Homo sapiens: one gene and its partner. The gene in region 2 interacts genetically with the main gene of each other region. Each region holds a gene or a part of one and is shown on either strand. Other genes may lie near its edges. The genes, in order: NSMCE1 and VPS4A.

What was found.
Region 1: changes in VPS4A (region 2) and NSMCE1 together harm fitness more than expected from each alone (negative genetic interaction), as found in Homo sapiens cells (one large-scale study listed by BioGRID).

What each region holds. Positions count from the first base shown.
Region 1 is NC_000016.10:27,230,557-27,234,368, forward strand, and holds part of NSMCE1 (non-structural maintenance of chromosomes element 1 homolog), read right to left. Parts: intron 3,710-3,812; coding exon 3,632-3,709; intron 2,592-3,631; coding exon 2,445-2,591; intron 1-2,444. UniProt on the Homo sapiens protein: RING-type zinc finger-containing E3 ubiquitin ligase that assembles with melanoma antigen protein (MAGE) to catalyze the direct transfer of ubiquitin from E2 ubiquitin-conjugating enzyme to a specific substrate.
Region 2 is NC_000016.10:69,324,218-69,327,574, forward strand, and holds the end of VPS4A (vacuolar protein sorting-associated protein 4A), read left to right. Parts: coding exon 1-92; 3' UTR 93-2,722; downstream 2,723-3,357. UniProt on the Homo sapiens protein: Involved in late steps of the endosomal multivesicular bodies (MVB) pathway. Recognizes membrane-associated ESCRT-III assemblies and catalyzes their disassembly, possibly in combination with membrane fission.

The DNA of each region.
Region 1 (3,812 bases), about 42 Mb from region 2:
GAGGAAACAGTCTCCGCAACGAGAAGCTGCTCACCACAGGCAGCGGAGGAACCTGGAGGAGTCTCACCACACAGCCCCTGCCACATTAGCTTCGTTCCTTCGTCCTCCTGAGGGCCCCAGCAGGCCAGGCAGTCAACAAGAAGCCTCTCTAGGGCTACTGCCCAGCGCCAGTGCTGAGGGCCCCCTGCTACTTCTGCAGCGCTCCTGCAGGTGGCAGCTCCCGGATCCTCTGTCCACCCTCCCTCGAGCTCAGAGGCGCCCTGCAGAAGGTGGTGCCAGCACTGCCACCGAACTGAGAAAGGCACAGAGTACAAGCGCCTGCAGCCACAGCTCACCGCCACAGACTCCAGGGCGGGGCCTCTCCTATCCACCACCGCCCTCTCCAGACACCAAGGGCAGACAAAGGGCAAGTCAAACCATAAAGCTGGGGGCACGCCCTGCAAGCCATGCACAATGGTGGCAGCATGTGCTAGGCATGGTGCTCTTGGGTGCAAAGCAGGGTGCAAAGTGTTGTGTACTGGGATGTTGGGGCACTCGGCTCTAGGGTCTGGGATAACAGGTGACTTCAGTGGGTTTCTTTATGCATCTCAACATGTTCTAATCCTCCTGTAATGAGCAGATATTTCCTGTAACATTTTTTGTAAGTTTTAAATGCTGTTCCTCTGCAACCTCATCCACCTGTCCAGTCATCCATTCAGCAAGCATTTATTGAGCAGTTGAGGTGCCAGGCACTACATTCTGCAATGGGGACCAGCCATGAAGAGGTCATAACCCCTACCCTTAAAAAACTTGGCCTGTGGCCGGGCACGCTGGCTCACGCCTGTCATCCCAGCACTTTGGGAGGCTGAGGCAGGCGGATCACCTGAGGTCAGGAGTTCGAGACCAGCCTGGTCAACATGGAGGAACCCCGTCTCTACTAAAAATAGAAAAATTAGCCGGGTGTGATGGCGCATGCTTGTGATTCCAGCTACTTGGGAGGCTGAGGCAGGAGAATCGCTTGAATCCGGGAGGTTGAGGTTGCGGTGAGCCAAGATTGCACCATTGCACTCCAGCCTGGGCAACAAGAGCAAAACTCCATCTTAAAAAAAAAAAAAAAATTGGCCTGAAGAGGGGCTGCACCACAAGCGAGAATGGTCAGTTATAACCTGAGTAGCCCTAGAACATTCCCTAGTGCCAAATACAGCCTGGAGGGCAAGAACAACTGTGACAAAGCCATTGATGGGAGCTGCAGTCCCCAAACCGGGGCCTGAACTCGGCCCTGCCACTCTCAGGGTGTCCGACGTCATCCAGACCCCTGAGCTGTCAGCTAAAAACTAAGCTATGGAGCCACTGCAGGGCAGCAGACAGCCTCCAAGACATGACATACGGGAACGCGCCCAGCAGATCCTGCACTCACCAGGAGCTCCCAGCCCTGCCCTCACCCCATGACCTCTCCACCCTGTCTTCCCATCAGGTACCCCAGGAACTGAATTCGGGTCAGGTTCCTGGGACAGGCCCACCCTAAATAGAAATCAGTAACTCAGAACACAGACTTCCCCAACCCAGACGCGAGCCTTCCTGAAAAGGAAGCGGAGAATCGCTGCAGCCACAAGCAGCAGCCTCTGGCCACGAGTCCGACCACCAAGTGAGGAAGCGGGGACCCGGCGTGAGTGCGTCCTCAACACACATGGGCACAAGCACCTGGGAGGCACAGCTGTGGTCAACTCGGCAAACACTGAGCTGTTGAAAACAGGGGTGCCTTTTGTGGAAAAAGAACTGAAACATTTGTTCTGCTCCATTCAGCAGGACTAGACGTGGGGGTGGGGGCAACATCTAGAAACTGGAGCTGCAGTGGGGCCTGTCCCAGATGTCACAGCTCCTTTCCTGAAGCAGGTCTATGCCTCTTCTAAGCACTGGCCCTGAGGAACTCACTGCTGACAAAAACAACAGTGGTAATGTCACCAATTCCTCTGCCGCCTCCCCCGCGAGCCAGCCAGCCTAGCACCGAGCACATTACTGTGAGGTCCCATTCCCGCTCCTGACACACCCAGCCCCGAAGGGGAAACAACGACTCCCCTCTTACAAGGAACATGAGGTCACCTGGCTCAGGGTTCAGACCCGGGTTAGATGTTAGAGCCACACTCTCAGCCACGGAACTGCCCTGCCTTGCAGTCTGTGGGCTAGAGCCTTGATCCTGGGGCCCAAGTCCCTGGGCGCGGCTCCTGGCTCTGCCATTCTGGCTGTGGCATCCTGAACACATCATCTGGGTGAACGGGGAGTGGGAGGCAGGAGGAGTGAGGCCCAAGTCCTCCCCACGGGGTCACTGCTGGAATGCATGAAAGCAGATAAGGGATCCGAGAAGGCCGGGCTCCTCAGACATCAGTTGGCTACAAGTACGATTTTGGAGAAAAAACTGTTATTCACTTGAAAAAGTGAACCAGGCTGGAAAAACCATGAGACAGTACCTCAATCAGCCACTTGTTTTGAACAAACTTCTGCAGCACCTGCTCCGCTTCCTTCTTCCTCATCTTCTTGCCTTTAAGTTGATCAACCAGGTTCAATATGTTTGTGGAAGACGCAAAGCCGGTTTCTGAGTCAATAATCAGTTCCAGCTGGAAGAAAGAGCAGGTATCATGCTCATCTATTAAAATGGCAAAAATAACTTTTAAATGGTAATACCAAGTCTGGCAGAGGCACAGTAAAACCACTCAGATCACAGGCAGAACTGTACACTGGCATGGTATTCCGGGAAAACAATTTAATGTGCATCAAGAGCCAGGACTGTGCTCAGTTCTTTTGACTCAGAGGTCACTTCTATAACATCCTCCCAAATAAATCATCTTAATGTCCCCAAATCAAAGAGGGTCGCCTTGCCTCACGGCTGGCCTCGGAGGCAGTGAGAGAGAGACACGGCAGGCAGGAACCGCTGGGGAAGACAGGTTCCTGCACACGCAGGTGTGTGCTCAGCTCAGCACCTGCTCCTCAACCTTGGTGGCTAATAATCCCCAGGAGAAGATCTAAAAGGAATGATTCCACCGCCTGGTTCTCAGAGATTTGGATTCAACAGATCGTGAGTGGGGCTGAAATGTCTGAATTATTTTTCACCTCTGCAGTTATTATCATTGCATCTAGGCCTGAGAACCACTCTTAGCCATGTGTTTGAGCAGAAGGCTGAGCAAATAGCTCTGAAGCCTGGTAGAACAGTACCTGTCAAATGTGCACGTGCAAAGGATTCAGTGGGCACCTGGCAAAAATGCAGATTCGGACTCAGCAGTCTAGAGTGGGGACTGGGACCGGGCCTTTCTAACAAGCTCCCAGGCGATGCTGCTGCTGCTGCCTTTCCCAGATGGCACTTGGAGCAGCCAGGCAGGAACGCCTGTTACTACCAGTGAAGCCCTGCTCTTGCCCATCCAGTTGGGGCTCACACCTGGCCCAGCACTTCCTTCTCAGGCAGCCATGGGGACCCCCTGGCAGCTGTGAGTTCCAGATGGGTAGACAGTGACATCTCCCTGCAAAGCCTTTTCTCAGACAGCAATGGTGGCCCATGTCCCCCCAGTGATCCTTGAACACTGCAGTTGCCACTGCTAATGACGGAGACAGAACTTTCCCATAAGAAGCCCACCCAATGGGCAATGGGGATTACTCTACTTACAGCCTTTCTAAACAAATCCAGTTCATTCTCTGCAAAATCCGTAGCCATTTTGGAAATTGAAGTTGTAGCAAGATTCACCTAAGAAATAAGTCAGCACGACAGTCAGGCTGTGCTCTTTGCGTGTTGGTTAACGTGTCGCTGGCTCTCCCTCCCTCCCCTCCTCCATCTCTGGCCAGTCACT
Region 2 (3,357 bases):
TGCGGTCTCTGGCCACCACCCGGCCCACGGTGAATGCAGACGACCTCCTGAAAGTGAAGAAATTCTCAGAGGACTTTGGGCAAGAGAGTTAAAAGCTGCTTCACTTGGGCAATGGTGAAGGTGGGAGGTTGATTGGGGCAAATCCAGGCACTCCCCATGTCAACAGCCAGACAGGGCTCCAGGGCTTGTCCCAGTCAATACAGAGTTCCCTCTGCTGTCTGGCCGTCTGCCAGGGAGCCAGAAGGAAGGGCCTTGCAGCCACAGAGACACTCCACTGCCCTGGGGCACACAGTGGACACTGCTCTTCCTACTTCCTCCTCTCCTGGATGCTCATCAGCTCCTTCTGCCTCCCCCCCTTTTTTTTCCATCTTTTGTTCCCCTAAATTAATGCTGCTTGGATTTTCATCTTATTTATAAAGATAAAATCACCTGGAAGTGTCAAGGAGTGGGGCGGGGTGGCGGGGGAGAAGCAGCCGTGCTGCCAGGTCACCCAGACCTCCAGACAGCCGGCTAGCCCCACTGCCCGTTCCTTTTACGCCCAAGTTTTGCTCCTTGAGAGCAGATTGGCTGATGCCCCTGCAACCCCAGCCCAAGCTCTGCCTCAAAGACCGAGTGACATAAGCCATTCCCACCCTCCTAGGTTCACATCCAGGGCTGTGTCTTCCTTGGGGGAGGAGATGGTGTCGTTTAGATCAGGGTAAGGCAGTCAGGCGGGTGTTCACCACTGCCTTTTCTTCCTCTGAGCGTGAGAACACTGAACCCAGCCACTGCCCCTGGGTCCCTGTCCTGGAAATGGTCTAATAAATCCTTTTCCCTTCTTGAGCTACCCAAGTGATCTCATCTTTCCTTGACTCTTAACTGAGACTCTGAAGGGCCACCCTTGCTTCCAATTAAAAGACCCTCTGGTTTTCTGTCTCCTCTCTTTTCTAAAGCAGAGCAGGAAACAGAACACTGCAGTTCTTAGGCCTGTTCTCCAGTCAGGTGTGCAAGGCCTCCTCCCCTTAAGGCCTCAGAAGTTTGGCTGGGGATGTTTGTGGGATCCAGACAGTTCTTGCCGTTGTTCGGCCTACAGATCAGAGACTGCAAAGTGGGAGCCCTGCGTACCAGACCCGTCCTGCAGCTGTGTTTGTTTGGTTTGGTCTGCCGCTAACATTTAAAAGTCGAGAGTTGCTGGGCGCGGTGGCTCACGCCTGTAATCCCAGCACTTTGGGCCGCTAACATTTAAAAGTCGAGAGTTGCTGGGCGCGGTGGCTCACGCCTGTAATCCCAGCACTTTGGGAGGCCGACGCGGGCGGATCACAAGGTCAGGAAATCGAGAACATCCTGGCTAACACAGTGAAACCCCGTCTCACTAAAAATAAAAAAATTAGCCGGGCGTGGTGGTGGGCGCCTGCAGTCCCAGCTACTTGGGAGGCTGAGGCAGGAGAATGGCGTGAACCCGGGGGACGGAGCTTGCAGTGAGCCGAGATCGCGCCACTGCACTCCAGCCTGGGCGACAGAGCAAGACTCTGTCTCAAAAAAAAAAAAAAAGTCGAGAGTTGACATAAAAATTCAGAATTCTGACTTCTAGAAGATTAAATTAGGTAATGTTGGGCCTGCGTCCTCATGGGGCAGCCTGTCAGCGGCCACTAAGTAGAGGCTGCTCTGTACAGAAGGGGTCCCCCATCCCCACTCATCTGTGTTGCCTGCCCAGATAGCCCCATGGCCATTTCAGTTTGCGACCCCCAACAGACCAAGGACCCAGAGCTGGCAGCCCTGGACCCACGTCCGGCAGGCAGTGAAGCTGCAGAGGCTGTCCCACGTTTACCCCATGCATATAAACAGACCAAAGTCAAAGCACATTCACACAGAAAGACCTGGCCTAGTAAATGAAGCTTATAGCCTGCAAAGGGCTTTGTTCCAACCTTCCCTCTCCAAAACCCAGTACTGCTCCTCTACCTTTCAAACCTGGTTGGGCCAGAACTGATTACATGGCCAACTCTTGGCTCACACTGGGCTTGCACTGGGCCATTTCTTTGCTCTGGTTCAGAGCCTCTGCAGAAGTGAGCTAACTTTGGATCAGTAGCTCCAACACTTGGCTCCAGTGCTGGCAGGTTACCCCTCAACCATAGCAGCTGGGATCTTTGTGGCTTGGGGGTGCTTGTGTAAGTTCTTGGTTATGTGCCCTCAGCCACCAGGATATGAACCGTGTCTGCAGAGCTTCACTTTAGTGAGCTTACAAGTTTTTAAATTTTTACTTCTAGTTACATTTACTTGAATCAGAACGTTGTTTCCTCATTCCTACTGCTTAAACACCTTGACAAGTCCTAGGGGTTAACAAAGGTTAGCATGGCTATGGTCCATCCCTGTGCTCTAGTTAGAGCGTGAAGACACCTGACTTTCCAGTTGTCTCTCTCCATGACCAGCAACAGGAACCACTGACGCTGAACTTTGGACAGTGGCCTCAGACTCTGGCTGCCAGCACACAACCTGCCATCATCGATGTTAAACATGCTGACATGTGCAGAGGAGTTTCCTCCCTGAAATGCTCTGAAATTCACTTCTCTGCCTGGGGATTCTGTTATAAACCTTCTGCCTACATTGGCTTTCACTGTGGAAGTTGATTTCTAAAACTCTGATGAGCTCACAACGTTGACATGTATATGCGTTTTTTGTGAGTGCTTCCTGCTCAAAGTGGGAGAGATTTTACTGGAAATGCAATAAAGTTTGCATTTTATTGCTACCGATGCCCACCACAAAAGCGTTAACCTCAGAAAGCTATAAGAAGCATCAAAAGATTGCCATAGCCCCCTGTAAGAGCTTCTGAACATTGTCCAAATGAAAGGAGGCTCAGCTGAATTCTAATTTTCCTAAAGACCCATGTTTTTAGCATCTATGAGCTTTCTACAAATCTCCCCATTGGCTGCATCTCTGACCTTGCACCAGTATCTGGTTGGGATTCCCTTTTTTTTTTTTTTTTTTTTTTTTTGAGACAGAGCCTTGGTCTGTCGCCCAGGCTGGAGTACAGTGGCGAGATCTCAGCCCACTGCAACCTCTGCCTCCCAGGTTTGAGCGATTCTCCCGCCTCAGCCTCCCAAGTAGCTGTGATTACAGGCGCCTACCAGCACACCCAGCTAATTTTCATATTTTTAGTAGAAACAGTGTTTCGCCATGTTGGCCAGGCTGGTCTTGAACTCCTGACCTCAGGTGATCTGCCTGCCTTGACCTCCCAAAGTGCTGGGATTACAGGCATGAGCCACCAAGCCTGGCCGGGATTCCTTTTCAAAGTCTGGCTGCACCTAGAGCCAGTTTGCTTCTGCTTGGCCTCATGGGGCCTCAGAGAAAGCCACAAAGGAGGATGGGTCTTTCCTGGGTTCA